Regions from separate parts of the Homo sapiens genome. Here regions 1, 2, 3 and 5 are each reported to be linked to region 4. The links are microRNA targets in miRTarBase. Many come from high-throughput screens and were not tested one by one. Region 4 holds a microRNA gene; each other region holds the end of a gene's coding sequence.

Region 1 (6,429 bases), not on the chromosome of region 4:
GGAAAGGAATGTCCCATTGGCAACTGACTTGATCCGAATAAGTCAATATAGGTTTACGGTTTCAGACTTGATGAGAATGGAAAAGATTGTATTGGAGAAGGTGTGTTGGAAAGTCAAAGCTACTACTGCCTTTCAATTTCTGCAACTGTATTATTCACTCCTTCAAGAGAACTTGCCACTTGAAAGGTAAGTGACCTTTGTTTTGAACAAGAGACATTTGGAAATCAGAATGGTATTGTATGGATATTGCATAAAATCAGTATCCTCATAGAATTCTAATAAAAATAAGTAAAATGACAGCTGTGGCTCCTTGAACTTTAATGTCCATCATAAGTGAGAAAATGTTCCATTGTCAATAGCTTCGTTAAAGCTAATTCTTGGGATTAAAGTACATTTTGACTTTATAGAACCTAGTAGGAAAGCATCTAACACAAATTTATGGAAAAAAAGGACCTTCAGTGGATGTTGAAATATTTATTAAAACTAAAAGAAAATAAATCTTGTATTTGTGGCATAGTACTATTCATTTTAATTTTTTGGCCCAAATCATCTAAAACTCCCATATGGTGCCTTTAGAAGTTAGTATCTCTGATGGAAGGGGAATTCCTTTCAATAGTTCATTTGCTATGTTAAGTGTGCATAAGCTTTACTTTAAAAATTGACTTCAATGTTTTTCTAAAAACATCTTTTGACTAGATGTAGTATTACCTAATAAAAGTAATACCATTTTCTTTTTAAAGGAGAAATAGCATTAATTTTGAAAGACTAGAAGCTCAACTGAAGGCATGTCATTGCAGGATCATATTTTCTAAAGCAAAGGTAAATATTTTATAAAGATTATGCCTATTGATATGATCTGTTTTTATATTTGGCATTTACTTTAAATTTATCTCTTTTAGCCTTCTGTGTTGGCATTGTCTATCATTGCATTAGAGATCCAAGCACAGAAGTGTGTAGAGTTAACAGAAGGAATAGAATGTCTTCAGAAACATTCCAAGGTATGTGAAGGACATAGCCTAAATCCTATTAACAGCTGTAAAAGAAACTAAACCCCTTCTATCTCCTGAAGTAAAATGAGATGTCATATGTTTATTTGAAACTTAAGTAGCTATCCTCAAATGTTTTTAATGAGCAAAGACACATGTTCATAGGATTGCATTTATTAATGTAGTTAAATAAGGTGGGACTTACTTGGAGTAATAATTTTTTAAAATTTATGTATGTACAGATAAATGGCAGAGATCTGACCTTCTGGCAAGAGCTTGTATCCAAATGTTTAACTGAATATTCATCAAATAAGTGTTCCAAACCAAATGTTCAGAAGTTGAAATGGATTGTTTCTGGGCGTACTGCACGGCAATTGAAGCATAGCTACTACAGAATAACTCACCTTCCAACAATTCCTGAAATGGTCCCTTAACTGGTAAATTTGGTCCGTTATTATTCTCCAGATAGAGAACATTTTCCAATGCCATAATTTTCAACTAAAGAAGAGTAATTATCTTCAAAATAAACAAAATGGAGTTGGAATAGTAAAGGGGGAGATGACATCACTGATCTAGTCAGCTAATATTTGAAGGCCTTTACTATATACAAGGTACAACATCTTAGGAGTAAGGAATTATCCAACCTCTGATACATACGTTAGCCATTTCATTAAATTTTCAGCTTAGAGAACAGCATCCTCCTTGTAGCACTAAAATCATGCTTTTTTTTAATTGCACATGATCTTGCTGTATGTATCTGACTGATTTAAAATTACATAAGCTGAGCAGGACAACAGCACCAAAAGTCTGAACCAAGTATGAACTAATTTGAGACTGTTAGCTTATAAGCAAAATCAATATGAACTTGGATATTGTACTTAAAAGAAAAAAAAGTAGGCCGGATGCAGTGGCTCACGCCTGTAATCCCAGCACTTTGGGAGGCCAAGGCGGGCGGATCACGAGGTCAGGAGATCGAGACCATCCTGGCCAACATGGTGAAACCCCGTCTCTGCTAAAAAATACAAAAAAATTTAGCCAGTCGCGGTGGCGGGCGCCTGTAGTCCCAGCTACTCGGGAGGCTGAGGCAGGAGAATGGCGGGAACCCGGGAGGCGGAGTTTGCAGTGAGCTGAGATCGCGCCACTACACTCCAGCCTGGGCGACAGAGCAAGACTCCGCCACAAAAAAAAAAAAAAAAAGAAAAAAAGTAGGATATGATAGATGGTCTCTACATTGGGTATCTGGAAACTGCCAGAGTGTGTCAACACTATACTAACCTATCATTGCTATAGCAGCTGGACTACTGCAAAGTAGTTATATGCATAAAAAATGTAAACTTGCTTTCTGCATATGTGATATACATTCTTGCCATATAAATTTCCTAACTCAGTGATGATTTATTCTACTCAAAACTAAATGTTAACATTTAATACATCTACATGTGATTATGAATATTAGATATGAACATTTCAATTTTCTTAGTAGTATTTAGGCAGACTGGCTTCTGTTAAGTTGGATTTTGTTTGTTTTCTTTATTTAAATAGGATTATTACAGCACCAAAAAACTTCTCTGAAGCCTTTCTCCACAACCTTGTTCTATGGATTCCATAATGTTACAATGGATTTAAGCTATGAAGCCTCAAAACATCACGAGATAAGCATGATGGTCTCAGACTTGGGAAAACTGCCTAATATTATGCTGTAGTGGAATTATGTTTAGATTTGAATTCATCTGTGAAGCATTCAAATCAAAGCTAAAAGCCTAAATGTGAAATGCTAATGACAAGCCTGAGAAGGTAAACTGTGAATCTTCATTTCTATCATTGATCTAACTTTAGATATTGGATCAATATATTTAGGTGGTATTGAAAATGCTATTGGAGGAGTCACACTAATACTATCAACTATCAGTCTTCCCACAGCTTCAATCACTGTCATTATTCTAATCCTACTCCTACTTAAATTTTAAGTTATGAGGTTTATGTCAAAAGCAACATTTCACAAATGTACTTTTAAGGCATAATAAGGGTTAACATTCTAGGCAGTATAAACACACCCCATAATGCAAGTAATAGGTAATCTAGAGATGTGGACTTTATTGCTATATGGGAATTACATTTAAATTTGAGGGCATTTTATATAAAGAAAAATACAGACCTATAAAGTTTGGCATATTCATTAAGTTATCTTTTAATATTTTTTTCTAGAAAACAGGTGACATTTGTATCTACGATAAAAATTTTTATACAGAACCTACTGCCTCAAACTGAATCCCATCAAGAAAACTAGTTTCTATTGTATTAGTAACTCAAAATAAATTATCACTTCGAAAACTTGCTTTCCCACACTAAGGTAAGTTCAGACTAGATTGAACACTCCAGAATTTTTTACTACAGACTGTTTTTAAGTTAGAAGTGATGGCAATTTTATAAATAGAGAATATACTTCCACTGATGCCCTTACTGTGCCAAAACAAAAATCTTAAGAAAAGCAAGTAGACACCTTCATAACTATGAATGAAGCTGCTGAAGTAGTGTTTAGGATCCTCCATGGCAGTTAGTGAATGTAAGAAGTACAGTGTTAAAGTGTTGTAAACAGTTACTCAGTGCAATGTATAGCCTGAGTCTATCCATGATGGCTATATCCAATTTGACATCACGTTATGGATCAGTACACAATGAAAAACCAAAGAACCACAGTATATCTTATTCTTAACTTTTGTAAACCATGTTTTATGGGTAACTTTTTAGTTTTCCCAAAAGGCTGATAAATTTCAATATTTTGAATACATCATTGTTAATTTTGAGTTGGCAGAGGTAAACTAACCAACTACCATTATGTTTTAGTACTAAGGGATATACCTTTCAATAAAGTTAATGAAATTCAATCCTTTGCTGGGTGGCTTTTTTCTCCTCTGATTTAATTAACTCTTTTAGCAATGTGTTAACAGAACATTATAAAAAGCTATCTCTACTCAGTATATTTAAATTTAGTACTAAAGTTAGATGCATAGTACCAGAAACAATAAAATCCCTATTAATAATATGACTATTAGATGACACTTTACTTTGTTTTTTCTGAAACATTATAAAAAGCTCTCTCTACTCAGTATATTTAAATTTAGTACTAAAGTTAGATGCATAGTACCAGAAACAATAAAATCCCCATTAATAATATGACTATTAGCTGACACTTTGTTTTGTTTTTTCTGAAACATTATAAAAAGCTCTCTCTACCCAGTATATTTAAATTTAGTACTAAAGTTAGATGCATAGTACCAGAAACAATAAAATCCCTATTAATAGTATGACTATTAGCTGACACTTTACTTTTTGTTTTTTCTGAGACAGGGTCACTCTTGTCACCCAGGCTGGAGTGCAGTGGCGCGATCTTGGCTCATTGCAGCCTTGGCAGCCCAGGCTCAAGAGATCCTCCCACCTTAGCTTCCGAAATAGCTAGGATTATAGGCACATGCCACCGCACCCAGCTAATTTTTTTTTTTTTTTTTGTAGAGGCAGTGTTGTCACTGTGTTGCCCAGGCGGATCTCAAACTCTTGGGCTCAAGTGATCTGCCCACCTCGTTCTCCCAAAGTGCTGAGATTACAGGCATAAGCCACCGTGCCTAGCCTCTAATGTTTTTTTAATAGACATAGAATGATGACAAATAATTGTTTAATGTGTATTAAAAGTTGGTGTTTATGCATTATTAATCCCTTTTATCACTTAGATTCATCACTGCTATGGATGCTATCCTTAATATATATTTACTTTTAGTTTCAGCCCACTTGAAGTTTTGTGCCAGCCTTCTTACCTAATTAAACAACACTTCAGCAGCGTGGTTGCTAATGCCAGGTAACCACCATGTGTTATGTTAGCCTGCTTGGATCAATTGTAATTATTACTGGAATTGAATTAATTAATATGATTTTGAACAGTTCATGTTCAAACTAACATCCTGTAAAGTAGACACTGCAAGGAGTTACTGATGAAAGAAAAGTTGTTCATAAAAGAAGCCTCCTTTTATAATTGACTTGCCTTAGACTTATTTAATAATGTTTCATAGTATTTTTTAAAAAGTATCTGAACCTTGTACATATTTACAATTATGAGACATCCTATCTAAAAATTTATATTTTCGATTTAACATTTGTGGCTGGCAGTGATAATTTTTACTCTCTGGTACTATGAATCATCTCATTAAAATCCTCTCAACTGAATGACATTATCCCAATTTGCAAATGAAAGAGAGACAGAGAACCTAATGATTTGCCCCTGGTCTATACCTGGTACTTGGAGGTAGGATTCAAAGCCAGGCAGTTCTGACTCCAGAGGCTGTGCTCTTAACCACTCTATACATTACCTCTCAAAATAAAAGATTAATTGGACTCAAGTGAAATTGCTTGTATAATTTTTAATCAAAACTATATGCTGGCCACATTAACTTCTGTGCTGTCATCATGATCATAGAATAATAACAACACTCAATTTATTTCTCTATACTAATAACTTTGATAAAATGTTATTATTTATTAAATCTATTTTTCAGAAACCAAAAAACAGTAAACATGAGTCAAGATGAATTAAAAGATAAGCCAATTTTTAAGGCCGAGCGCAGTGGCTCACACCTGTAATCCCAGCACTTTGGGAGGCCAAGGTGGACGGATCACTTGAGGCCAGGAGTTCGAGACCAGCATGGCCAACATGGTGAAACCCCATCTCTACTAAAAATACAAAAATCAGCTGGGTGTGGTGGCGCATGCCTGTAGTACCAGTTACTCCAGAGACTGAGGCAGGAGAATTGCTTGAACCTGTGAGGCAGTGAGACAAGATCACACCACTGCTCTCCAACCTGGGCAACAGAGTGAGGCTCTTGTCTCAAAAAATAAATTAAAAAGCCATTTTTATATTCATCAAAGTAGAGTTAGGAACAACCAAAATTGCCAAGGATAATTAGGGACATTATATAATGATAAAATTCACCAAGACAGTGCTAAAAGTGTAAGCACTTATTATCAGATCTTAAAAATACATGAAGAGACCAGGTACAGAGACTCATTCATTCCTGTAATTCCAATGCTTTGGGAAGCCAAGGTGGGAGGATTGCTTGAGGCCAAGAGTTCAAGACCAGCCTACTCAACATAGGGAGACCCTATCTCTACAAAAAATCAAAAATTAGCTAGGCATAGTGATATACATCTGTAGTCCTAGGTACTGAGGAGCCTGAGGTGGGAAGACTGTCTGAGCCCAGGAGTTTGAGGCTGCAGTGAAGCATGACAGAGTTGCTATGCTCCAGCCTGAGTGACAGGGTAAGACTCAAAAAAAAAAAAAAAAACATGAAGCAAAAAGTGGTAGCATTAAAAGGAGGACTGGACAAATCTTCATTTACAGTTGGAAACTTAAACATTCCTCTCTCAGTAGTCCATAGAATTAATAGAAAATTAGCAA
Region 2 (6,429 bases), not on the chromosome of region 4:
TCCCACTATGTTGCTCAGACTGGTCTCGAACTCCTGGGCTCAAGCAATGCTCCTGCCTCAGCCTCCCAAAGTGTTGCGATTACAGGTATGAACCACCACACCGAGCAGAGACCTGTTTCCTAGCCTGGGAATGGGTGATCAGGAGGCCTGAGTTTAAGTCCCATCTTGAGCTGCACTAACAAATTCTATGACCCTGCTAGAGTCATTTCTCACCTCTGGACCTGTGTTCTCATCTGTAAAGGAGCCAGGAACCAATGACGTCGGAAGAGAAGCCTTTTCATGTCTGATTCTATGACCTGCAAACTGCAAAGATCCCAGCAGGCTCCAGAAAAACACGGCAGTTAGAAACAAGGGAATGTGGGTGTTAGGTGGAAAACTGAGGAGCTAGGGCTCATGATGAAATGTTTTTCTACATTCACAAAGAAAAACAAACAAACAAAAAACAGGACGGAGGCTATGGGACAGGGAGGTGTAGGAAGACACCTGCAGTCTGGATGAGAGGAATGGGCAACAGTGTCCCTGCTGGGTTGCCTCAGGGACCCAAGCCTATGACCCAGGTAGTGTTTTCTCTCACGGCACTTCCCAGTCCACAGCTGACATGTTATATTCCAAATTGCTCCTGTTCATATAGTCATGAGCCATCAGAGGAGTTTCCACTACAATGCCTAATGCGTAACACATTAATAGGGTGGCTGAAGATTCCGCTAAACTCCTAGTGTTCCCCGTGTCAGATTAGACTGCACCCGCTGGGAGAAAGCAGTGGATGCAGCTCTGTCCATGCACACTCAGCTTTGCTTACTGAGGGTGTGAGAAATACAGATGGAAGTTTTGGAAGAGCAGTGCAAGACGGAAAGGGCATACTGCCTAATCTTGGTTGGTTTGCAGATGGTGGGGTTTGTGGTAGTGCCGGATCAACTCAACCCAAGGTGAGGAAAAGCCAGGGGGTTGGGAAAATCTCAGTGCTGAAGTCCTGGGAGAGGAGTACACACCAAAGCCATCAGGGCAAGGAATCTCTCCAGAGAGCCGCGAAAGCACCAGGCACTCAGAAGCCACTCAAGAAATATTAGTTTCCTCCCTATTTTACAAGGCTTGGTAGCACTGATAGTTTTGTGTCAGGTTCCAAGGAGACACCCACTATTTGTGTGCCTAAGAAGTAGCTCAGCCAGACCCAGCCTTGAGGCAGTGGGGCAACTAACAGCTTACCGAAGCCCTGGGGCAGCTTGATATGGGAATAATCAAGACCAAAATGTTGTTCTATAAAGCTGAGATTGGGGAGAGTGAGCCAGGGTACTTCTGAGAAAGAGGTCAGGGAACAGGATTATCATTAGCATTCTGCCCACAGAGTTGGCACTTACCCAGTAACATCGGGATTCCTAGAAAAGGCCCAAGCACAGACCCTCTAGCAGGTGTCCTAGTCACGGACCCAACCTAGTGGCGACATTAGGGGGTTTGCCTGTTCAAGGCCAGTGGGGGAAGAGGGAGGGAGGTGGCACACCAACAGGTGTGGAGCGCTGGCTAGGGCCAGGAGAGAATTCCAATGTATGGAAAGGCTAGAGTGTAAGTGGGAAGGTGAGGGGGGTCCTGTGCTGATCCTGCATAGATGGGACACTGACACAGGAGACAGCAGCAAACTCCTTCGAGTCACAGATGAAGCTCGGGGGCCCCCTGTCTTCTCCAAGCCAGTCCAGGAGATTGGCAGGATGGGAAGGCAGAGCACAGTCAGAAACTATGATCATTTCCTAATAAGAGATTATAGCAAGGTTTTAAATTTTGTTTTTAAAGAGGAAAAAAAATATAACATCATGGTTACACAGAGGCTCTGGAGATTCCCTGGGTTCACAATCCTACTTCTGCCATTTACTAGCTGTGCGATCTTGAACAAATTTCTGAGCTTCTCTGAGCCTGTTTCCTCATCTCTAAAACAGAGATAATGACAATGTTCTACTTACAGGGTTGTTTTGGGCATGCATGCAAACAAAACAGATTTTATGATCGAGTCATAGTTCTGGAAAGGAAGAAAAACCCAGATTTGCGCACACAAGTGTTAAGTAAATGTGAGCCCTCACTATTGTTCATACAACATGGCAGTGACACACATACATTAGACAAGAGATTATTACACACTGAGCCTCCACCCAGTCTCCCTATTATCCTCCCATGGGCTCCTAATTGATGACTAAACAGTGCATTGCTGGGTGGCTTCCAGTAGTTTCTTTCTTCACTTTGCTGCAACTTTGAACTGAAGGTGATCCACATGGTACATGACATTCTTCCTGTTTTCTTCACAAGACAAGGATGATGTTTAAATGGGCATTTGTTTGCGGAATGACTTGGAGAGTTCCTCTCTTTCAGCCATCTTTTCTCAAAGACTAAGGCTGTGGACAGGATGGGCATGGTAACAAGCCAACAAGCCTCATACTCTATTCTTTTTTTTTATTTTTTGAGACGGAGTCTCACTCTGTCACCCAGGCTGGAGTGCAGTGGTGCAATCTCAGCTCACTGCAACCTCTGTCTCCCCGTTAAAGTGATTCTCCTGCCTCAGCCTCATGAGTAGCTGGGACTACAGGCATGAATCACCATGCCCGGCTAATTTTTGTATTTTTAGTAGAGACAGGGTTTCAGTATGTTGGCCAGGCTAGTCTTGAACTCCTGACCTCAAATGATCCACCTAACTCAGCCTCCCAAAGTGCTGGGATTACAGGAATGAACTACCGCCCCTGCCCCCACACTCTATTCTGAATGCATGTATGGGCACATGTGCATGCCTGTCCCCTTTCACTCAGTGATAAGGAAGAAGGGGAACCAGAAATTTCTGTTTGAGAAATTAGTAACAGAAATGGGTGTGGGGAGCTGGTTACCTGGGAGATCCTTGTTCATTTGTAACATCAGGAACTGCTTCTTTTCCTCCTTCTCTCTTCTAGAAGACTGTCAAGGAGCCCGAGTGAGGGAAGCAGACCAACCATGGTCTTGGAGAAAAGAAAATAGGGTTTCCATCCCTTCTGGAGGGAGAAGGAATAGCAGAGATGAACATGAATGAAGAAGGAAACAAATGGAAATAAACAAAATGAAGGTAAATACCCTATATGTTAAAAGAAAAAAATACCCTATATGTTAAAAGAAAAAAGAAAAGAGAAGGAAGAGACACAAGGAAAGAAAGAGAGAAGCAAAGAGGTTAGGAATAGGGTAAGAGAAAAGGAAAAACAGCAACCAGCAGAGGAATCACTCCCCTGTTAAGGTTAACCAGGAGGAGAGGCTTATATAAGGCATGAATGTGAGTGGGTATGAGAGTCCAGCTTTCCCACTGCACTTGCTCTGGTTATGGAGCAGACTGCCATCTTCTGGTGCCATTTACTATTCAAGTTGCTTTGGTGTTTTTTTGTTTTTGTTTTTTTTTTTTTTTTTTTTTTACAACCAAGTGGATTGATTGAAATGCTTTGATTCTTCATTTGAAATGTTTCTATTCCATATACCCATTATCTTTTATCCTCACAAAAGCCCTTAACATTGTTTCCTTTAATCTTTGGGGTTCTTAAGCATCATTTCCACCAACAGAGATGTACCTACCCACAGTTGTCTCAGAGCATGGAGGCTGAAAGTCTGTGAGGACAAGAGTGAAATGGAGCAGAGGATAGGCTGTGGTTTGGAAGCGGCTCTGGAATACGCTGGGGGTGGCGGTGGGGCTGAAGGTTGGTTATGGGATGCTTCCTGGGCTCCGGAACATCTGTGCCAAAAACTGGAGGACCCATCCTCGGCTCCAGCCAGACGCTTGGGGTGCTATGTATTCTGAACCATAGCACTAGGTTGGAAAATTTGGCTCCTAATCTATACTCTGCCATGTACAGATCACAAAATATCATACAAGGAGCCTTAAAAGGTCATCTAACCTAAATCCAGTTTCCCAAGGAGAACACTGGGGCACAAAGAAGTGAGAGGTAACTCGCCCAAAGTTATATAGCTAGTCAGGGACTTCCTCTTCGGAGACAAAGGAAATCAGAATAGTGATTCTTCTGATTCACCGTCCCTCGACAAACAGTCCACAAAGTGCTTGGAGGTTATTAAAAGGCACCCCAGAAAAGTAAGGCTGGCATTTTCCTGGAAGCCCCTGAGTGTACAACCCCTGAGGCTCAGTATTTGGCTATAAAAACAGGTCTGGAGTTGCTTTGGCCTCCGTTTTAATCCCTAAAGCTGCCTGGAGGCTGGAGCTCTGATAGCTACCTGTCATCACTCCCCAGCCAGTCCGCGGACACCGCAGCCAGGAACTGTCAGAGGTGACAAGGGAATCCCGTCATAATGCCAAGGACCAAGGAGCAGTGGCCAGGTTCCTGGGATTAAGCAAGGCAATTATGGCTGAGTTAAAGCTAGGATGGGTAGGACAGGGGGATCTGAGGTGGAAAAGGCCGGTAAGAAGAGGGAATGCGCCAGCAATGTAAATGCCTTCGACTGGGTGGGCTACTTCACATCATACCTCCTCCATCTCCAAAAGGTTCTTAACCTTCTTCAACCGCCTAGGCCTGATGGACCTCCTCCCTTTCTCCCAGAGCCCACTCACTGAAGGGAAGGCCACCATCATCCCCATTCTTTTCCTTTTTTTATAATCCCTCCGGTGCCGTTTCGGGTCTCCTTCCTCCTATATTCTGAGTTCCTTCCACTCACATCCAACCAGCTTTTAACACCCGGATCTCCCGGAGCTTCTTTGGTTCCGCTCACTCCCCCCGCCCCCACGCCCCCACGCCCCCACGCCCCTGATTTCCCCACCCTTTTCGCCCTCCCCGGCTTGACTCCCTTGGACCGCTCCCGCCAATCCTGGTCTCTCCTACTCCTCCCCGCCACATCGGGTCGCCCCGCCCCCGGGTGCCTTTGGTGTTTTCCGCCGTCGGCCGCAGGCGCCTCGTCTCAGATAAAGTGGATCCAGCCCTGCGGCTCCGGAGCTCCGCCACTGCCCGGGTGCTCGGGCCCACGTAGAGCATAGTCACGGCCGCCGTTGTTGTCCCAGAACTCGTGACCTGTCACACGGTAGCGCAAGGCGAAGAGCAGGGCGCCCCCAATCGGCGGCGCGGGCAGGCGGAAGGCGAAGCGGTCGGCGCGCGGCGGGGGCGGGGCCGGACCGGCGTAGGCGGCTGGCGCCTCGCGTTGGCTCCGCCAGCCGTCGGCGCTCCAGCGCACGCTCACGCGCTTCTCGTAGGCCAGGTCCACCACGCGCGCGCTCCCGGCCACGCCCAGCGGGCCCGCCTCGGCGCGTTCCAGGCAGATGCGCTGCGTCAGCAAGCGGGCGGCGAAGCCGGGCTCGCTGGCCGGCTCCAGGGCGGCGCGCGCCTCCTGGGGGAAAGAAGAAGCGGGAGGAGGGAGCCCAGGGCGGAGAGAGGGGAGAGACAGGGGGCGGTGTCAGAGCAAGGCACTGGACCAATCAGAGGCCGACCCCGGCGTCCAGGCCGGCAGAGTGCGGCCCAGCTGCCAGGGTGGCCTAGAGCCACTCGCAGATGGGGTCCCCAAAAGGGATGGGCAGGCGCAAGCCCAGGGATGGGATGGAGATGGGTGCTCTTTGGCAAATCCACTCCCACAAGCCCGCTGCGGCCGACTGGAGGAGGTCCCCAGGAGGGGAGGTGCCCCCGCCGCCTACCTGGAGGCCGCGGGCGCGGGGCTGGCAGGGCGCGAAGTGGCGGAGGGCGTCCCTCTGCAATTGGATCTGCACGTGGCGGGGCACCCGGGGCAGCTCACCGGGACGGAAGCGGCGCACGACAGCCAGCTCCAACCCCAGTGCGTCGGCGAAACGCACTCTCTTGCGGGTGTCTGGGCTACGGCTGCGGGGCGCCCGGGCCCCGCCGCCTCCGGCTGGTGCAGATCGGGCCCGGCGGCCCCGACTCGGTGCGTGAGCGCGGGATCGGGCCCCGAACCGCGTCCCGCCCTCGCCTGGCTCCTCCTCCGGCTCCTCCTCGAGGCTGGGCCGCTGGCTACGGTAGTAGGCGCGCTCCGTTAGCGCGGCGATGAAGCTCAGGTTGCGGGGAATGTCGGTGCCCGGGGGCCGCTCACGGGACATGGCAGCCCCTTCCCCGGCGGGGCCAGCTCGCAGCGCCACCGCGCTCCCCTCTCTTCCTCTCTCCCGCCCGCCCCGCGTCAGCGCAGAAGTCGCTGGGTCCGCTTCTGCAGCCCCTCGCTGCTGTGTATTCTCCTTGCAGACACCTCCAGGATCCTCCACCTCCCGTTGCTTTGCCTCTCCTCTGTGACCACCCTTCCCTCCCTCTGGCCGTCAGCTTCCAGGGTCTTAGACTATCACATCCTGCCTCCTGCTAGCGGTCTGCTCTGAGCGTGCGCTCAACTGCACTCACCCTCCGGTTCCAAGGCCCTCACGGCCCGGGCGCCCCCGCCCACAGCCCTCTGACAGGTGGCTCCGCTTGTCTTCGCTGCTGCACCAGGGGGCGGGGACTCCACCTT
Region 3 (6,429 bases), not on the chromosome of region 4:
CCTTCTTCACTGGCTTCTATCCATCTTACCAAAGCTATGTGAGGCTGGGGTCTTTATCCCATTTTGGCATGAGATCTATTTACTGCTCCCATCTTCCACACAGAATAGCTAAGCAAGTTTTCACTGCCTCCATTTGTTAAAAATAATTGTTCTTTTATTTCTTTGGAAAGTAGTGGGCCCTGCCCTATGGATTTTCAGGTCAAACTAGGGTAATGAATGCTCCCCTAGTCTTTGGGCTGGAGCACTATGGTCCCAGCTTTCCCAGGGCCCAGAAGCAATTCCTGTATTGTCCAACCCAAGCAACTAGGACCCAAATTGTCTGAAGGCTCCTATCAGGCCTTCTCTCCTGACCACCCACTTCCCAATCTTTCCTGGCTTTCCCTCTGGGCAGGGTATTTTTTTCTTCTAAAACCAGTGCTGGAACCTGTGCTGTGCAGAAGAGAGGACAAGACGAGGGATGTTCCCAAATTCCCATAAGAGGACACAGCCCCTCAGTCAGTCCTTCCTCTCTGCTGGCTTCAGTCTGCACTCCTCTGCAAGCCCCCACTGTGAGGCTTGAAGATGGACAAGAGGACCCTCATAAAAGGGAGGTGAGAGAAAACACACCATCCCAACCCCTCCTCAGGACATACTCCTTGTAGTCTCTTGTCCTAGTTCTCAAGGGAGCCCTTCAGACAGGGATGGGGAAGGCTAGGTGAGTGGGCAAGGGCCCCCTGACCCCAGCCCTGCGAGGCTATACCAGGGGAGTGTCCATTAGCCCCATCAGTGTGGCATGGCCGTGATGCGCATGCTCTGGGAAGCGATAGGGTAAGTCACCATGGGAGTGGTGGTGTGGCTCATTGTGATTCCTGCCAAGGGTTGGGCCATCGATACAGCCACAGGGGCCACAGGAGCCACAGATACAGCCACAGGAGCCATGGAGACAGGTGGAGGTGCCATTCCCTGGGCAATTGTTTGAGCCAGGGCAGCTGACAGTGGCGTGATCTCTGGGGTCAAGTGTGGGGGTGGGGGTGGTGGAGCAGCAGGAGGTGCAGCATTAGTTGGGGGAGCAGCTGGAGCTCCAGCAGGGGCCACCAGTTCTTGCTGGGACACTGGACGAGGCTGTAGAGCCTGGCTGCTGAGAGTAGTGTGAGTCTGGGCAATGCCATGGTTAAAAGTGGCAACAGTGCCCACAGTGGGGGCCAGAGTCTGCTCAGTCGCTGGTGCAGTGGAGCTCAGGGTTATGACCTTGGCCTGATTGCGGAACTGAGCATTTTGTTCCAGTAGTACCTCATTGGTGGCCAGCAGGTTGCTGACCTGCTTCTTTAACTCCTCTACCCGCTTCCTGAGCATGGCATTCTCCTCCTCTAGCAGTCTGCACTCCACCCCTCGCGGTGGAGCCAAACTATATTCATATGACTCAAAATGAGGGCCATCAGGGGGGCAGCATCCACCTCGCCGGCGTTTTGGGCCTGGCTCATGGTCCTCAAAGCCCCTGTCAGGAAGGTCATAGATATCATAGAGATCATGACGTCGTCCTGGGAGGACTGAGCCTGTTGAGCCCCCACCAGTGCCTCCTCCACCCCGAGCATCAAACTCAAAATCCCGTTGCAGGTGACGGAACTTGCACTTGGCTCCTCTCTGACAGTCACCCTTGAGAAAGTCACGGCAGATAGGGACCTCCTCCTTGCCATTTGGTAGGTCAGCCGGTGAAAGGCCAAGGCCAGCTGCTACTTTCTGCCTCAGCCGTGGGGGAAGCTCTCCTGTCTTCTTATAGCCATCCTCATCCTCCTTGGAGCCATGGATGAAACGGCAATTTGGGCGGCTACACTCCTTGTTCTGGAAGTCATGGCAGAAGATGAACTCGTTTTTGCTCACCCCCAAGTTGGACACCTCGCTCATGTCTGGGTGGCGATATCGGCAACGCTTGCCTCGCTTGCACACATTCCTCAAGAAGTCTCTACAGATGGCATCTGAGCTGGCCCCGCCACTGCCTACCCCTGCCCCACTGGCCTCCTCGCTGCCACCACCTCCAGGGCCTCCACCGCTGCTCCCGGTACCGTTGGCATAGCTGTCCCGGTCAGGCATCCTGGTCCCGCCCAACTCAGGGTTTTCTTTATCTTGCCACTCTTGGTGACCACTACAAAAGAGGAGAACTGTATCAAACAGGAGTCCTCCAGGGAGATCCCACTCTTCCTGACTATAAAGCAGGTGGCCCAGAGGGGCAATGGCTTTAGAGATGGAGAATCTAAGGGATAAGAATTCTGGCTGAAATGTCTGACTCATCAAAAGCCCCTCCCAGGGTTTTGTGCACCTGGTCTGGGTCAGAATGATTCACACTTGCCTGGCTAACGGAGGAGGGATAGGCCCAGGACGGAGCAGGGAAAAAATAGTGTTGGAATTCATCTTTCCTTTTGAGCTGACCTTATTAAAGTTGTGGAAGTGAAATTAAAACTGCAGTCAGTATCTGAATAGTCTGGAAGGAAACTGGGAATAGTGCCCAAGATGGGCTACTGAGCTACTAGGGCTGTAGAAGATGGGACACTGGTAACAAAACTTCCTTAACCCCCTTTCCTTTTCCTCAGGTAAGGGCTCTGTACACATCAAATCTCTAGAAGCCAAGAAATCCTGGGTGAAGAGACTGGTGTCACCAGCTTGAGGGGAGTCTCAAAACCTGTCATATTTTAGTATTCCCTCCCAGCCATCATCACTGTCAACGGCAGAGAGGTAAGCCCCTTCTATTTCAGGATAGGAGTTCTAAGTTAGAGTCTCCACTTCTAGATTTCCTAGGACAAACCATTTGTGATAAGGTCAAGTGGGAAGGAGTTAATTTCACAGGAACAAGTGACCTTTCCCCATTCCCCACCCCCTTCCTACTCCCCTATGTGAAGATCCCACTGACATCCAACCACACCATTCCTCAACCCAGAAAGATCCTCTTTATTTATAGACTCCATAAAAGCTTTTTAAGTCTCCTATTTCCCAAGAGAGCTTTGGAATGTCAGTCCACTGCCCTGGTTCTAGCCCTCCCCTCTCTCCACCCCCAGTAAGACCTGGAGTCCCTGCTACCACGTGTCTGACCTCCCAAGCCTTTCCTATGCGGTGTTCAGGCTCCCCCTGCTGCTGAAATAGGAAAACTTCATATTGTTCCCTTTGAGAATAAGGGAATCTTTCCTAATTCCTTTGGCCTTGACCTACCCCCACCCCACTACTGTGACTTTGCCTTCAGATCTCCCTAAAATGAACTAACCAAACCAGAGGCCAGAGTTACAAGAGAATCTGTAAGAGGGTCCTCCTCCTCTAAAGAGAGGTAGTCCCAGAATAATAGAAGCAATCAAGGAAAGAAGTGGTAAAAGAAGATACAAACTTTTAGTAAAGGGGAATGACCAGGTGAAGTACAAATGCCATCTATCCAAGCCTGGCTCACGTTGCAAGTCGCACCAGCAGCAGATAATTAGTTATGATGCTCCTCCCCACCCCACTCTCCCAGAATTGATACCTGAGGTAGCTCAGGTGAAGTCCGGGGCTCCTGTGGGTCTCCACCTCCACATCACTGCTGGGTTCTGAGCAGGAAAAAAACAGAGACTTGGGTGGAAGAAGGAGTAAGAGTGGAGGACTATGGGGTGGTTGTCACAAGAAATCTGACAAAACGGCAAAGCTTCGAGAACGTGAGGATTTCCTCAGGGTTCAAACTGAACTTCACCTGTCCAAGGGAGAAGTTGCCAGTAAGAAGAGTAAAACTAATTCGGAGGGACTGGGAGGAGGGGTTGGAAAACCAGCCCTGAGTGAACAAAGAGTGCGGGGCGCCCTGCCTCAAGATGAAAGAGGATGTGAGGGTCAGAGCACCGCCAAGGGCTGGAGTTAGTAATGGCTAGTGAGGAACCTCAAAAAGGCAGCGTCTGACAGTGCATTGGGATGGCCGATTAGACTTGAAGGCAGTGATTGTGACGCTTCCCAACACCCTAGAGTTTGCGAAAGAAGTCCTAGGAGTTTTCCCGCAGCAAGTCTTCTAGCTTGGCAGGTTCCGTGCAGTGCCGCCGGCGCTCAGCCGTGGGCTACGTGAATGGGACACTAAGGGCGCGCGAAGTGAAGCGGGGAGCTGGAGCTCCAGGTGTCATCAAGCTGAGGGGATGGGCAGGGTTGTGACGTCACGAAGCTGGCGTTTGCTCGCGATGCGGGGTCACTCAGAAAAGGGGCACTGCCCTGGGGTGTGAGGACGAGCCAGCTCGGTTCTGGGGGGCCTTCTGTGGCCTGGCCGAGCCCAGCCGCTGGGCCGGCCCCGACTCCTCCCCTCCGGGCGCGGCCTCCACCTAAGTCTCCCGCCTCCCTCACCTGCCGCCGCCGCCGTAGTTGCTGCTGCCGCCTGCCGGTCCTCTAGCTTCGACAAAGAGCCGCCTACCCGATCGCTCTTCCGCTTCCTGCGGAAGAAGTGACGCTCTAGCCAGCAGACCCGGAACCATACTCTATGGTGTATGAAGTACGCGTGCGACATGCCGCAGGGCGTTCCCAGCACGCTTTGCGTGTCACTATGGCAACCCAACCCAAAGGCACGACATGGTCTAAGCGGTAGTCGCCAAGGCAGCCCTCCTGGAAAGGGGCGGTACCAGCATTGGCCCCTAATAACCCGCGAAACCTAAAACCTGCCTCCAGAGACGTACCATATCCCATCCAACTCCAGCGAGATGCAAACCACACCACGTAACCCGGGCTGTTGCCTTTATAGCTTTGATACCCTCCATAGCACAGGTAGTGACAGGGCAAACTCTAATGACAGAAAACCCCCACCCGATGGAACCATAAAAAACATAATAGACAAGATGATTTAATTCTTCAGCTAAAACAGCGGAAGAGGTGATTTATTATATGGTTGTTACACTCGGCCACAAATAAACACAGAAATAGTCCAGAATGTCACAGGTCCAGGGCAGAGGACCAACATGGGCATTTTGTTTATGAGCAAGGTGGGTCTCAGAGGTGATCGGCGATCAGAGGGCGATGAAGTTCTAGATCCATTGAGACAAGCTCTAGACAGTAGCATGCAGTCCCACAACTTGTACCAGCATCCCCAGCGTCTGGCATTCCATGTTTCTGCTCCTGTGGCCTCCACGGTGCAACAAGCTAGCGGTTTACTTGGACCTCTGCCTCATCTTTCTTCTTTTGCGCTTCAGCCTGAAAAGCAGACACAGGAATGGAATACACCTCAAACCAGAGTTGCCTTTCCCTCCCACATTAAATCAAACGTCCACATAAAGAATGAGGTGGTAAAATGAACAAGCACTACGGTTCTATCGTTCTCTGTTCTGTTAAATCCTGGCTCCAGGGAGAAAACACTCAAACGTTTTTCTCCTAAAGATCTTTTAAGATTTCCAAACCAAATGTTTCTCCTAAGTTTTGTCCAAGGAACTTCCCTCCTCCTGGGCTGGCAAAGTCTCAACGTACCTGCGCATTCGCTTCTTCCTCCACTAGCAACCGATCACAAGCAGCAGATAATTAAAAAAAAAAAAAAAAAAAAGGGATGAAGCTTATTAGTAGGCTTAGCAAGGATATGAAATGCACTCTTTAGAACCGGACAGATTCTTAACCAAGAAGTATGAAAGATTGGTCGTAACAACTACATCAGTAACTTGGACACCCTCCCAACATAAGATCAGAATTCCACCCTTTTCTAAGCCCACCCTCTCTACCCATAGCACTTAACCGCTAGCTCTCTCACAAACTACCTTCTCTCTCCCACCAGCTCTTGGGCACCCTTGAAACCCAGTAGTTCAGGAGGTATGGCGGACTTGCCTTCGTCTCCTCGCTACTACTCGCCAACTCCTACCTCCCAAGCTTACTACCAGGAACCGCTCACCTTGGCTCTCATGGCGCAGAGGTTTCTACAGGGAAAGAGAGAAAGGCTACAGTTAGTTTGCTGTGATGATGCTAAGTGCCGAGGTCAGATGTCTATGGATTGTACACGGAATCCCAACGCAGGAACCAAAAAACACTCACCCAAAAAAATGGCGCTAAGGCCGAGAGAAAGGCGAAGTTCCGTCTACGGCTATTTAATGGAGCGCCGGGTGTCGTCACTTCCGCTTTCACGCCCTTTGCCCCCCCCAAGGGCGGGGCTACCCAATGGGCGTAACAGTGGTTTTCGGACCCTCTTGTAGAAGGGTAGGTTGAGTTAGTTCTTTCGGAAGACCGAGTATTTGGTTTTCGAGTTACCAGTTCCCCCCCAGATTTAGTATGAGGACGCTGTGTTATTTAAACGTCAGCACCTATTTCCAATATTGGACCTAGAGGTGCAGACGGGGAAAAAATAGTGACCGCCACCTTCCCTCGCATTGCTTCTTGGGAGTTGCAGTTCCCTGGAGAAGTCCTCCATTTTGCTATGGATAGGCGCGGACTGTACAGAAATTCTTGTTTTACTGGTTTGCCTTCTTTTCTTTCTTTCTTTCTTTCTTTCTTTCT
Region 4 (6,429 bases):
AGAGACAGGGTTTCTTTAGGAGCTTTTAAGGCCTCCCTTGTAGTCTATCCTGGAGGATGTTTGTGTGTGCAACAATGTATATTCTTCAACATGGTAGATTCCATTTTGACTGCTCTAATCAGGACTGTGTGTCCCTGTGCTGGAAATCAAGTGAACACTTGGCTGAAAATCCACTGCTGTTCTCTAGAAATCCAGCCCAATTCTCTTGGTTAAATATAAGGTATGCATAGTAGGCATTGCTTTTTCTTTCTGGACACAAAACTCAGGAGGATTTCCCCTTGATGAACAAGGCTAACCTGCTGAGCCTTTGTAGGAAGGAACGGGAGATGGTCTTTTTAGGGGTCTATGTTCTGGATTCCAGAAAACATGCAAACAGAGCCAATAAATAGGTCTTTATTTTTGTCTCTATTTTAACCTGGTCAAGGAAAATTTCTACAAAAAACCCAGGGTGCTGGAGCAAGAAGATCCCATGCTGTGACCCTCTAGAGGGAAGCGCTTTCTGTTGTCTGAAAGAAAAGAAAGTGCATCCTTTTAGAGGTTTACTGTTTGAGGAAAGCAACAGTGAAGTTGATGCTGATCTTGGTAATACATTTGCAGAGCATGCTTATCATCAGACTTGGATGATGGTGGGATTCTGTTTTTATTTTGTTTTTTTTTCTAAGACAGAGTCTCTCTTGCCCAGGCTGGAGTAGGGTAGCACTTCCAACGTAGATCTTTTAGGCTCAAACGGTCCTCTTTTTTTTTTTTTTTTTTTTGAGGCGGAGTCTTGCTCTGTGACCCAGACGAGAGTGCAATGGCGCGATCTTGTGTGCAAGCTCACCTCCTGAGTTCAAGCAATTCTTCTGCCCCAGCCTCCCAAGTAGCTGGGACTACAGGTGCCTGCCACCACTTCCAGCTAATTTTTGTATTTTTAGTAGAGACAGGGTTTCACCACGTTGGCCAGGCTGGTCTCAAACTACTGACCTCAAGATCCACCCACCTCAGCCTCCCAAAGTGCTGGGATTACAGGCGTGGGCCATTGTGCCCAGCGGTCCTCTTTTTTGAGATGGAGTCTTGCTCTGTGACCCAGGCTGGAGTGCAGTGGCAGGAACTTCGCTCCCTGTACCCTCCACCTCCCAGATTCAAGCCATTCTCTCCTGAGTCAGCCTCCCTAGTAGCTGAGATCGCAGACATGAGCCACCATACCCAGCTAATTTTTGTATTTTTATTATTTATTTATTTACTCATCGATTTTTGAAACAGAGTCTTACTCCGTCCATCAGGCTGGAGGTCAGTGGCACAATCCCACGTTCAAGCAATTCTCCTGCCTCATCCTCCCGAGTAGCTGGGATCACAGGCGCACACCACCACGCCCGGCTAATTTTTGTGTTTTTTTTGTTTGTTCGTTTTTTTTTTTTTTGTAGAGACAGGGTTTCAACATGTTGGCCAGCCCAGTCTCCAACTCCTGACCTTAAGTGAGCCCATACACAATCAAGAAGAGAGCGAGACCTGTTCTTTTTTTCTGTCTTTGACTATTTGAGACAGTCTTGCTCTGTCACCCGAGATGGAGTACATTAGTGTGATCTTGGCTCACTGCAACCTCTGCCTCCTGGACTCAAGCAATTCTCTTTTTTTTTTTTTTGGAGAAAGAGCCTCTCTGTGTCTCCCAGGCTGGACTGCAGTGGTGTGATCTCAGCTCACTGCAACCTCAGCCTTCCAAGTAGCTGGGATTGCAGACATGTACCCCCATACCAGCTATATATATATATGTATTTTAGACACAGTTTCACCATGTTAGCCAGGCCATTCTTGAATCCTGACCTCAGGTGATTTGCCGACGTAGGCCTCCCGAAGTGCTGGGATTACAGGTATGAGCCACTGCACTCAGCCTTTTTTCCTAATTTTGAATATGGGACCCATTATGAATTTGGGTGTCACCTATGTGCGGGGGCTATGGAAATCTCTGTCACCCCATTCATTTGTGTGTGCTGTCAAAGCACCAATATGTGGGAATTATGCTTTATGTGAGCATATAGTATATGGAACTTTGGTTTTTTTTTATACAGGGTCTCAAAAAAAAATGAGTATATTTCATCACAATGTTCTGTGTATAATTCCATACACACAAAATAGTCTTCTATACACAGAGAACACTCTTATATCACTTTGGAGTTGTTTTTGTTTGTGTATTTTGTTTTAATTTTTATGAGACAGGGCCTGGCTATGTCGCTGAGGCTGGAGGGCAGTGGTGAGATCTTGGCTCACTGCAACCTCCACCTGCCACCTCAGCCTCCTGGATTAGTGTCTACAGGCAGGCACCACCACCCCTGGGTAAGTTCTGTATTTTTGGTACTGATGAGGTTTCAGCACGTTCCACAGGCTGGACTCTTAACTCCTGCGATCAAGTGATCCTCCCGCTGTTCAAATTTTACTGAGGAGCTTTTAAGGCCTCGCCTGTGGTCTGTCCTGTAGTGTCCCTGTCCTGGAACTCAAGTGAATACTTGGTTTAAAATTGATTGCTGTTCTCTAGAAATCCAGCCCAATTCTCTTGGTTAAATATAAGGTATGTGTAGTAGGCACTGCTTTTTCTTTCTGGAGGCGAAACTCAGGAGGATTGCCCCTTGATGAACAAGGCTAACCTGCTGAGCCTTTGAAGCAAGGAACTGGAGATGGTCGTTTTAGGGGTTTATGTTCTGGATTCCAGAAAACATGGAAACAGGGCCAATAAATGCATCTTTATTTTTGTGTCCATTTTAACCCAGTGAAGGAAGATTTCAACCAAAAACCCACGGTGCTGGAGCAAGAAGATCTCAAGCTGTGACTCTCCAGAGGGATGCACTTTCTCTTATGTGAAAAAAAAGAAGGCGCTTCCCTTTAGAGCGTTACGGTTTGGGTAAAGCAACGTTGAAGTTGATGCTGATCTTGGTAATATATTTGCAGAGCATGCTTATAATTAAGACTTGGATGATGGTGGGTTTCTGTTTTGTTTTTTGTTTTAAATCAGAGTCTCACTCTGTCACCCAGGCTGGAGTGCAATGGCGCAATCTCGGCTCACTGCAACTTCCCCCTCCTGGGTTCAAGTGATTCTCCTGCCTCAGCCTCCTGAGTAGTTAGGATTACAGACATGCGCCACCTCACCCGGCTCAGTTTTTGTATTTGGTGGAGATGGGGTTTCACCATGTTAGTCAGGCTGGTCTTGAACTCCTGATCTCAGGTGATCCACCTGCCTCAGCCTCCCAAAGCATTGGGATTACAGGCGTGAGCCACCACGCCAGGCCTGTTCAACATCTTAGATTTCATTTTGGATGTTCCTGTGAGGACTGCGTGTCCCTGTGCTGGAACTCAAGTGAACGCTTGGCTCAAAATCCATTGCTGTTCTCTAGAAATCCAGCCAAATTCTATTGGTGAAATATAAGGTATGTCTAGTAGTCATTGCTTTTTCTCTTTGGAGACAAAACTCAGGAGGATTGCCCCTTGATGAACAAGGCTAACCTGCTGAGCCTTTGAAACAAGGAACTGGAGATGGTCCTTTCAGGGGTTTATATTCTGGATTCCAGAAAACATGCAAACAGGGCCAGTAAATGCATCTTTATTTTTGTGTTCATTTTAACCTGGTCAAGGAAAATTGCTACAAAAAACCCAGGGTGCTGGAGCAAGAAGATCTCATGCTGTGACCCTCTAGAGGGAAGCGCTTTCTGTTGTCTGAAAGAAAAGAACGCGCTTCCCTATAGAGGGTTACCCTTTGAGAAAAGCAGCATTGAAGTTGATGCTGATCTTGCTAATACATTTGCAGAGCATGCTTATCATCAGACTTGGATGAAGGTGGGGTTCTGTTTTTTTTTTTTTTCTAAGACAGGATCTCTGTTGCCCAGGCTGGAATGTGGTGGCACTTCCAACCTAGCTCTCTTGGGCTCAAATGGTCCTCTCTTTTGGGATAGAGTCTTACTCTGTGACCCAGGCTGGAGTGCAGTGGCGTGATCTCAGCTTACTGCCACCTCCACCTCCCAGTTTCAAGCCGTTCTCCTGCCTCAGATTCCTGAGTATCTGGGATTATAGGTACCTGACACCACGCCTGGCTAATACTTGCATTTTTCTTTCTTTTTTCTTTTCTTTTTTTTTTTTTTTTTTTTGAGATGGAGTCTTACTCTGTCACCAGGCTGGAGTGCAGTGGTGCGATCTTCGCTTATTTCAACCTCCGCCTCCCAGTTTCAAGTGATTCTCCTGCCTCAGCCACCCGACTAACTAGGATTTCAGGCATGCACCACACGCCTGGCTAATTTTTTGTATTTTTAGTAGAGACAGGGTTTCACCATGTTGGTCAGGCTGGTCTCGAACTCCCGACCTCTGGTGATCTTCCCGCCTTGGCCTCCGAAAGTGCTGGGATTGCAGGCATTAGCCACCCCGCCCGGCCATTATATATTCTTATATATATAATACCATATACGTGCAAAATACTCTTCTACATGAAGAGAATACTCTTATATCACTTTGGGGTTTTTTTTGTTTGTTTGTGTGTGTGTGAGTGTATGTTTTATTTGTTTTTGGATAAGGTCTGGCTCTGTCACCCAGTCTAGAGTGCAGTTGTGCCATCTCTCTCAGCTCACTGCGACTTCTACCTCCCACCTAAGCCTGCTGAATTAGTGTCTACAGGCATGCACCACCACACCTGGCTCCGTTTTGTATTTTTTATACACATGGGCTTACACCATGTTGCCGAGACTGGTCTCGAACACCTGAGCTCAGGTGATACTTCAGTTTCAGCCTCCTAATGTGCTGGGATTAGAGGTGTGAGCCACCGTGCCCCACTTGTAGTTGTGTGTTTCTGTTCAAATTTTATTGAGGAGTTTTTAGGGCCTAGCCTGTGATCTACCCTGGAGGATGTTTGTGTGTACAACAATGTATATTCTTTAACATCGTAGATTCCATTTTGGATGCTCCCATCGGGACTGTGTGTCCCTGTGCTGGAACTCTGGTGAACACCTGGCTCAATATCCATTTCTCTTCTCTAGAAATCCAGCCCAGTTCTCTTGGTTAAATATAAGGTACATATGTCTATGAGGCATTGCTTTTGCTCTTTGAGAACAAAACTCAGGAGGATTGCTCTTTGATGAACAAAGCTAACCTGCTGATCCTTTGAAGCAAGGAACTGGAGATGGTCCTTTTAGGGGTTTATATTCTGGATTCCAGAAAACATGCAAACAGGGCCAATAAATGCATCTTTGTTTTTGTGTCCATTTTAACCGGGTGAAGGAAAATTCCAACAAAAAACCCAGAGTGTTGGAGCAAGAAGATCTCATGCTGTGACCCTCTAGAGGGAAGCACTTTCTCTTGTCTAAAAGAAAAGAAAGCGCTTCTCTTTAGAGGATTACTCTTTGAGAAAAGCAACGTTGAAGTTGATGCTTATCTTGGTAATAAATTTGCAGAGAATGCTTATAATCAGACGTGGATGATGTTGGTGTTTCATGTTTGTTTTGTTTTGTTTTTAATACAGGGTGTCTGTTGCCCAGGCTGGAGTGTGGTGGTCCCTCTCCAACCTAGATCTCTTGGGTTCAAGTGGCCCTCTTTTTTGGGTCAGAGTCTTGCTCTGTGGCCCTGGCTGGAGTGCAGTGTCAGGATCTCTGCTCACTACAACCTCTGCCTCCTGGGTAAAAGCGATTCTCCTGCCTCAGCCTCCCAAGCAACTGGGATTACAGGCATGTGCTACCATGCCCGGCTAATTTTTGTAATTTCCTTTATTTATTTTTGAGACAGAGTCTTACTCTTTCGCCCAGGCTGGAGTGCAGTGGTGCAATCTCGGCTCACTGCAACCTCCAACTCCCACCTCAGCCTCCTGAATAGCTGTCTACAGGCATGCACCACCACACCTGGCTAACTTTTGTATTTTTTGTACAGACATGGTTTCTCCATGTTGCCTGGGCTGGTCTTGAACTCCTGAACTCAAGTGATCCTCCCACCTCGGCCTCCTAAAGTGCTGTGATTAGAGGTATGAGCCACCGTGCCCCACCTGTACTTGTGTGTTTCTGCTCAAATTTTATTGGGGAGCTTTTATGGTATAGCCTGTGGTCTCTCTGGAGAATGTTTGTGTCTATGACAATGTATATTCTTCAGTATGTTATGTTCCATTTTGGATGCTTGCATGGGGACTGTGTGTCCCTGTACTGAAACTCAGGTGAACACTTGGCTCTCCGTCCATTGCTGTTCTCTAGAAATCCAGCCCAGTTCCCTTGGTTAAAGATAAGGTATGTCTAGCAGGTATTGCTCTTTCTCTTGCAGACAAAACTCAGGAGGATTGCCCCTTGATAAACAAGGCTAACCTGCTGATTCTTTGAAGGAAGGAACTGGAGATTGTCCTTTTAGGGGTTTATATTCTGGATTCCAGAAAACACACAAATAGAAAACAGGGCAAATAAATGCATCTTTCTTTTCGAGTCCATTTTAACCTGGTTAAGG
Region 5 (6,429 bases), not on the chromosome of region 4:
CTTTCTCTTTCTTTTCCTTCCTTTTATATCCTTTTCCTTCCTTCCTTCCTTTTTTCCTAACTTCCTTCCTTCCTTCTCCCTTCCCTTCCCTTTCAGTTTCCCTTTCCCTTTCCCATTCCCTTCCCTTTCCTTCCTTGACAAAGTTTCCCTCTTGTTGCCCAGGTTGGAGTGCAATGGCGCGATCTTGCCTCACTGCAACCTCCACCTCCTGGGTTCAAGTGATTCTCCTGCCTTGGCCTACCGAGTAGCTGGGATTACAGGTGCCTGCCACCACACCATGGCTAATTTTTGTATTTTTAGCAAAAACAGGGTTTCACCTTGTTGGCCAAGCTGGTCTTGAACTCCTGACCTCAAGTGATCTTCCGGTCTCAGGCTCTCAAAATGTTGGGATTACAGGTACGACCCCACCATGCCTGGCCCTCCAACCCCATTCTTGAAAGCTTTTCTCTCAAAACCTAATGACCTATCAAACTTCCCCCTCCTAGTACACATTGGGGATTAGGTTTGGGGGGACACAGACATTCAGTCTCTAGCACCACATCTGTTGAGTCCTCCATGGAAATAAGGAAGCTGGACAGCCTCCTCCACACAGTCTCCCCTTGACTGCCATCGCCTCGGAGTGACATTAAGTAACTCACTAAGGCCAATGGCTGGGCTTCCTTGGGGACAGTTCCAAGGGCTGGTTCCTTGTTTGTGTCTGGGGATCCTTCCCTGCTTCTTTGCACATCTTATGTTTTTTGAGATGAAACTGAACATTTACAAGAATACAACGTGGCATCTCTGAGAATCAGATGTCCCCTCTCTTCAAGGTGTGTTGCTGCTGCTTGTTTACTGACTTTCCTGGATGGATCTTATAACATCTGTATTCCCTGTCACAGGTGGACCCTGAAGTCTCTGCTCAGTTAGGTGAGGTTGGATAGAGGTTTGCATCAATGCCTTGAGCCGGTAAGTCTCTCCTCAGTGCGGAGGGCTTTGTGTGTGTGGTGCACTCCTGCCCCTGCCGCACTCAGGCGGGCAGCTGATGTCACCACTGCAGCTCCACTTCCTGCCTGCACACAGCCTCCAGGTCAGCCAAAGGTCAGAGATGTGGCCTTCTCAGGTGCTTCCTGGGCACGTGCCGGCCCCTATGCACATCTTATTCCCCAAATCTTTCTCTCAATTTCCCCCACTAGTCTCTTGTTTGTCCCACATGCAAACGGTGAGGTTGTACAGTTGGAATGATTGCTTTTAGCCAGTGGTCTGAGGATCTGGCTTTTCCCCTAGAGAGAGACCTCAGCTGGTCAAATAATGACAAACCCAATGAATGGGGCTTTTCCAGTGAGTCCCAGACTAGTCAAATAGAGTTCTCTGGGGCAGGGGCTTTTGAGGGGCTCCAAGCCCAGCATGCCCCTCCAGTGAGTGGAGACTGTGTCCTTGCAGCTGTCACGGACATGGTGAGTCCACTGTTTTCTGGGCACAATAAATCAGGATATATTGTGCAGACAAGAAATACGAAGAAATATTAGGAGGAAGAATATAAATTTTCAAGTACGAGTTGGGAAGAATTAGAAAAAAAACAATGAGGAAAGGGGCAAGGTTGGCTTGGTTGTAGCTAACCTGGTGGAGAAACACAGCCATCTGTGATAGAGGGCCTAAGCTGTTAGGTTCCCCTCCAATGGTGAGACCACCTCCACAACCTGCCCTGTGTCCTCCTCTCTCCTGAGGCTGAATGCAGCTCTTGTGCCTTCAGTGCCAAGAATGCCACAGTCCCAGACCAGAGGAAGAGCTGATGTGGACGGTGGAAAAGGAGGGGGTGGGTGTAGAAGGAGAAGGCTGACAGCAAGGATTTCCTGAGGATAAACAAAAAAAATGTCACTTGAAACTGGCAAAAAAAAAAAAAAAAAAAAAAAAAAGTAAGGGTATAAAGAACAAGATGGAAATGGAAATCTTGTATAATTTCATTATGCAGTGTTTAATTTTAGGGTTTGGCACTTTCACGTATAACTTTTATACAATTATCATCATATACAACTTACGATTATTTTAAATGACTAGAGTTTAGTTTTTGATCTGGGTTAGCGTTCATAGTGCAAAGTTCTCTCGTTCCACTCAGTTAACCCCATTTTTTGGAGGGCTCTATGTCATTTTATTTTACTTACGAATCTTTAATTTTAACCTTTATTATAGATTAAAGGGTACACATACAGGTTTGTTACATGGGTAGATTTTGGAAGGCTGAGGCTTGGTGTCCCAATGATCTCATCACTCAAACAGTAAGCATGGTACCCAACAGGTGGTTTTTCAGCCCAGGTGCCCCTCCTGTCTCACCTGTCTAGTAATCTCCAGTGCCTCTGGTTCATGTGAATTCAATGTGTAGCTGCCACTTTCCAATGGGAACATGCAGTATGTAGTTTTCTGTTCTTGCATTAGGTTGCTTAGGATAATAGCCTCTAGTTCCATCCATGTTGCTGAAAAGGACATGATTTTGCTGTGTTTGGTGGCTGCATAGATTTCCATGGTGTTTATGTACCACATTTTTTTCATTCAATTCAGTGTTGCTGGGCACTTAGGTTGATTCTGTGTCCTTGCTAGTAAGAATAGCACTGTAATGAACATATTGGTGCAGGTGTCTTTTGGATAAAATGAATTCTTTTCCTGTGGATATATCCCGAGTAGTGGGATTGCAGGCTTGAATGGTAGTTCTATTTTAAGTTCTTGGAGAAATCTCCAAACTGCTTTCCATAGCGGCTGAACAAGTTTGCTTTCCCACCAACAGTGTCTGTTTCTTTTCCTCTGCAGCCTCACCACCATCTCCAACTTTGTGACTGGTAAGAGATGGTAACTCATTGCAGTTTTGATTTGCACTTATCTGATGATTAGTGATATTGAGCATTTTTTCACGTTTGTTGGCCACTTGTATGTCTTCTTTTGAAAAGTGTCTGTTCATGTCTTTGCACATTTTTTAATTGGGTTTTTTTTTCTTGCTTGTCTAATTGTTTAAGTACTTTGTAGATTCTGGATATTGGACCTTTGTCAGATGCAGAGTTTGCAAATAGTTTCCCCATTCTACACGCTGTCTGTTTACCGTGTTGCTAGTTTCTTTTTCTGTGCAGAAGCTCTTTAGTTTAATGAGGTCCCATTTGTCAATTTTTGTTTTTGTTACAATTGTTTTTAGTGTCTTCTTCATGAAATCTTTGCCAGGCCCTATGTCCACATTGGTATTTCTTAGCTTATATTCCAGGATTTTCACAGTTTTATTACCTGCGCAACATAGGAAGACCCAATCTCTACCTAAATATAAAACAATTTGCCAGGCATGGTGGCATGCGCCTGTAGTCCCAGCTACTCTAGAGGCTGAGTCTAGAGGATCACTTGAGCCCAGGAGTTGGAGATTACAGTGAGTGATGACTATGCCACTTCACTCCAATATGGTTGACAGAATGAGAAAATGTAAAAAAACTATAATGATAAAAAGGATTAATACAATTCTTGGTCAGTGCATGGAAAGGATCCCTGAGGTCTGAAGTCCTGCATGCTATTTTACTAGCAATACCGTTTCGAAGAATAAGGTCATGCTTCAGAGAAATGTCTGCTTTTCCACAATCAAAGAAGTAGAAAGAAAATGCCTTTTGCTGGGATTTCTTGTTCAGTTAAAACTTGTGCAGGAATTCCATCCATTAGCACCGAGAGAAAGTGGCAGAAGGTGTTAAGAAAAATGGCTGGCCGGGCGCGGTGGCTCACGCCTGTAATCCCAGCACTCTGGGAGGCCGAGGCAGGTGGATCATGAGGTCAGGAGATCGAGACCATCCTGGCTAACAAGGTGAAACCCTGTCTCTACTAAAAATACAAAAAATTAGCCGGGCGCGGTGGCGGGTGCCTGTAGTCCCAGCTACTCGGGAGGCTGAGGCAGGAGAATGGCGTGAACCCGGGAAGCGGAGCTTGCAGTGAGCCGAGATTGCGCCACTGCAGTCCGCAGTCCGGCCTGGGCGACAGAGCGAGACTCCGTCTCAAAAAAAAAAAAAAACAAAAAAAAAAAAAGAAAAATGGCTGCTGGGATCATGAGCGAAGGTAATGAGTGGCCTGAGATGTTGAGCCGACAATGTCCTCATCATCTGCTGGGGGCCTCTGGGCTTGCTAAGGCTTGAACTCCTGCTTTCCAGAAAGGCACAGTGGTGAGTAGACAGGCGGCCTCCCTGAAGGGAGAGCAGGAACCAGACCAGGCTAACAGAGGCTTCTTGATATCACCTTCCACCTTGAGGAAAGATGAAGCATTGGTTTAAGTGGCTGAGAAAAACCTGGGTCTGTTCTCCTGGGTGATCCTTCCCAGGCCCTCCCCATTTCAGAGCTTCTCCCCCAGATAAGGAACATGTTTTTCCCTCCAACCCTACCCCTGGCTGTGCAGCCTTTCCCAACCTCCACCCTCCTTCACCACACCACAGAGGCAGCCCAGGTCCTGTTACAGCCCATAGGGGCTCAGACCTGAGGCTGGTAATGAGGGGTCTGCACCCTCACTCAGGGCCTGCTCCTCCCTTTCATAGAAGGGTCTAGAGGACCTGGGGGAGCCCTGTCCAAAGAGAGGTCTCTGGATCCATGTTCCCTGGCCTTGGGTGGGTTTGTAGGCAAACCTTCTTTCTCCTTCGCTCTCAGCCTCTCCTCACCCTGGGAGCTGCACCCATAGCTCTGAATGGGACTGTCCCTGCCCTGCCCCATTCATTCCTGGCCAAGCTCAGTGGTGACCACGGACCTCTAGCAGCAGCTCAGCTGCCCTAGCTGAGTCCACTCTGCTCCAGGCAGGGCCATCAGCTGGCTCAGGATCTGGAGTGTGCACGAGGCAGAATGGCAGTGGCATCGTCCCAGGGCCTAGCCAGGAATCCCATGGGTCCAAGGGGCTCGGCCATTTCCTAAACCTCATCCTGGACACGCTCTACTCTTCACCTTCCACCTTAACTGCTGGGACTCAAGGTGCTCTCTCTGGGAATGCAGCCTTAGGAACTGGGTGGGCCAAGGCCCTCACAGCCCCCTCGTCCTGGGATTCCCCCAGGTTTCTCTCTTCTTAGCCTCCTCCAGGGACACCCCTTCCCTTGACATCCTTGGTGAAGTGGCCATGCTACTCCTCTCCTACTGTGCAGACTGCCCATGCCTGAGTTCCTGCTGCCTGCAGGCCACACACCACTACCCTTCCCAGATAGAAACCTGCTGTGAAATAGGCCTGAACTGTCTAAACCCTCTTGAACTCAACCGGCCCTGAGCCTTGATATGGGTCCCTCCCTTTCCCTCTGGCCCTGATGGTGAGAATCCATCAGAACTCAAGGTTGAGCTGCCCAGGTCATTGCAAACAGGCGACACCAGGTCTCATTCACCTGTCTCATGTCAGAACGAGAAGGTCCCGGCCATGGGGAGAGGTGGGACTCTGGAAATTCTCCTTTCCCTTCCTCCCACCTCACCCATCTGTCTCTCGTTCCCCTCACAGTTTTGCCCACAGTACCTGTCACTCTAAATGACTCTTCTCAGATGCCAGGGAGGATGAAGCAGAGGATGATGAGGAAGCTCCAGGGACTGAGGGTGGTGGCTATGGCTTTGGGTTGAGCTAAGCCTGGGGCCATGGTGGGTGGTGCTGAAAGGGAAACACAAAAGTGACAACTCTTGTCCACGCTCCAAATCTGAGGAGATGGCTCCTTAGCTCCTGCTACCCCAGGTCATCCGGGAAGGCAGAGGATTTGTCTCCCCTGCTGTGGGGCAGCCGCTGTGACAGGTCCTGGGGGTAGGAAGGGAGAAGGGGTGCTCCCTGTCCTCAGGGAGCTCACACAGCTGCTGAGGGAAGCAAGGTGACAGCACAGCCCACCCTCCTGCTGTGGCGGAAGAGGAGGTGATGCCCTAGGGCCGGGACAGGAGAGTCTCGGGGCTGCCATTCGAGGTGGTTTTGATGGATTTCCAGAAACAAACCAAGGGAGAGGAAAGGAAAAGTGATCCTAGGAGGAGGGAAATCTAAGGAGAAAGGTCTAGAAACACAATGACGCCCACAGTTTTGAGGCTGGTGAGAAATCCACAGTGAGTGGAGCAAAAGCAAGTGCAGTGAGGAAGAGGAGTCAGGAGGGAGAGCATAGGCACCCCAAGGAGGAGGCCCCCATGAGGGGTTCATGTTCTTACACTCACTCAAACACACACTCACACTCACACATACATAGACTCACACCCACTCACACCCATACACCCACACCCACCATACTCAGACACTGACAGACAAGGGTGTAACTCGATGGCATCTCCAACATGCTCCCAGTGCTCCCCTGTCAGTTACCTGTGGGTTCCAGCCTCTTCTTCCTGTGCATCAGGAAGTCCCTAAGCCAGCTCTTGCAGTCTCTCATTGAGACCATCTTGAAGAAGGTGGTCAGTCCGCTATCCTTCTCCCACTTCTCTTTCATCCGCCTGGCTCCAGCGTGAACCACTGTC

Evidence for each region. Region 4 holds the annotated microRNA hsa-miR-523-5p (CUCUAGAGGGAAGCGCUUUCUG, at 3,656-3,677, shown strand). A microRNA usually pairs through its seed, bases 2 to 8, with sites in the 3' UTR of a target mRNA and lowers its output. Matches are read on the target gene's strand: a 7mer-m8 pairs with bases 2 to 8, a 7mer-A1 pairs with bases 2 to 7 and ends in A, and an 8mer does both.
Region 1: the mRNA of CCNG1 is a reported target of hsa-miR-523-5p. Seed matches in the 3' UTR shown: 7mer-A1 at 3,187-3,193.
Region 2: miRTarBase lists PPP1R3E as a target of hsa-miR-523-5p. Seed matches in the 3' UTR shown: 7mer-A1 at 2,916-2,922.
Region 3: miRTarBase lists RPL41 as a target of hsa-miR-523-5p. Seed matches in the 3' UTR shown: 7mer-A1 at 4,981-4,987.
Region 5: miRTarBase lists ULBP3 as a target of hsa-miR-523-5p. Seed matches in the 3' UTR shown: 7mer-m8 at 3,339-3,345 and 7mer-m8 at 3,326-3,332.

What each region holds. Positions count from the first base shown.
Region 1 is chr5:163,441,146-163,447,574 of GRCh38, forward strand. It overlaps CCNG1 (cyclin G1), which reads left to right. Exons shown (of 7, transcript NM_004060.4): 3 at 1-186; 4 at 741-819; 5 at 900-998; 6 at 1,229-1,423; 7 at 2,529-3,871. The coding sequence ends at 1,420. It overlaps NUDCD2 (NudC domain containing 2), which reads right to left. Exons shown (of 4, transcript NM_145266.6): 4 at 5,381-6,429. Among named protein-coding and RNA genes, the nearest start is that of CCNG1, 6.8 kb to the left of the region's middle.
Region 2 is chr14:23,296,543-23,302,971 of GRCh38, forward strand. PPP1R3E (protein phosphatase 1 regulatory subunit 3E) reads right to left here and starts at 6,317. Exons shown (of 5, transcript NM_001276318.2): 1 at 5,618-6,317; 2 at 4,756-5,316; 3 at 4,216-4,322; 4 at 2,859-2,999; 5 at 1-2,375. The coding sequence starts at 6,034. The coding sequence ends at 4,894. RefSeq lists an enhancer at 4,764-4,953 and silencers at 5,014-5,443, 5,454-5,513, 5,594-6,103.
Region 3 is chr12:56,116,201-56,122,629 of GRCh38, reverse strand. RPL41 (ribosomal protein L41) reads right to left here and starts at 5,997. Exons shown (of 3, transcript NM_001035267.2): 1 at 5,831-5,997; 2 at 5,419-5,441; 3 at 4,663-5,148. The coding sequence starts at 5,842. The coding sequence ends at 5,106. It overlaps ZC3H10 (zinc finger CCCH-type containing 10), which reads right to left and starts at 4,364. Exons shown (of 3, transcript NM_032786.3): 1 at 4,312-4,364; 2 at 3,479-3,542; 3 at 1-2,119. The coding sequence starts at 2,067. The coding sequence ends at 763. RefSeq lists enhancers at 478-1,475, 6,356-6,405 and a silencer at 4,640-4,689.
Region 4 is chr19:53,694,745-53,701,173 of GRCh38, forward strand. MIR523 (microRNA 523) reads left to right here and starts at 3,641; the gene lies at 3,641-3,727. MIR519B (microRNA 519b) reads left to right here and starts at 469; the gene lies at 469-549. It overlaps MIR525 (microRNA 525), which reads left to right and starts at 2,789; the gene lies at 2,789-2,873. MIR518F (microRNA 518f) reads left to right here and starts at 5,271; the gene lies at 5,271-5,357. It also overlaps LOC107985346.
Region 5 is chr6:150,059,121-150,065,549 of GRCh38, forward strand. ULBP3 (UL16 binding protein 3) reads right to left here. Exons shown (of 5, transcript NM_024518.3): 3 at 6,278-6,429; 4 at 5,465-5,593; 5 at 1,933-4,231. The coding sequence ends at 5,487. Among named protein-coding and RNA genes, the nearest start is that of ULBP3, 6.8 kb to the right of the region's middle.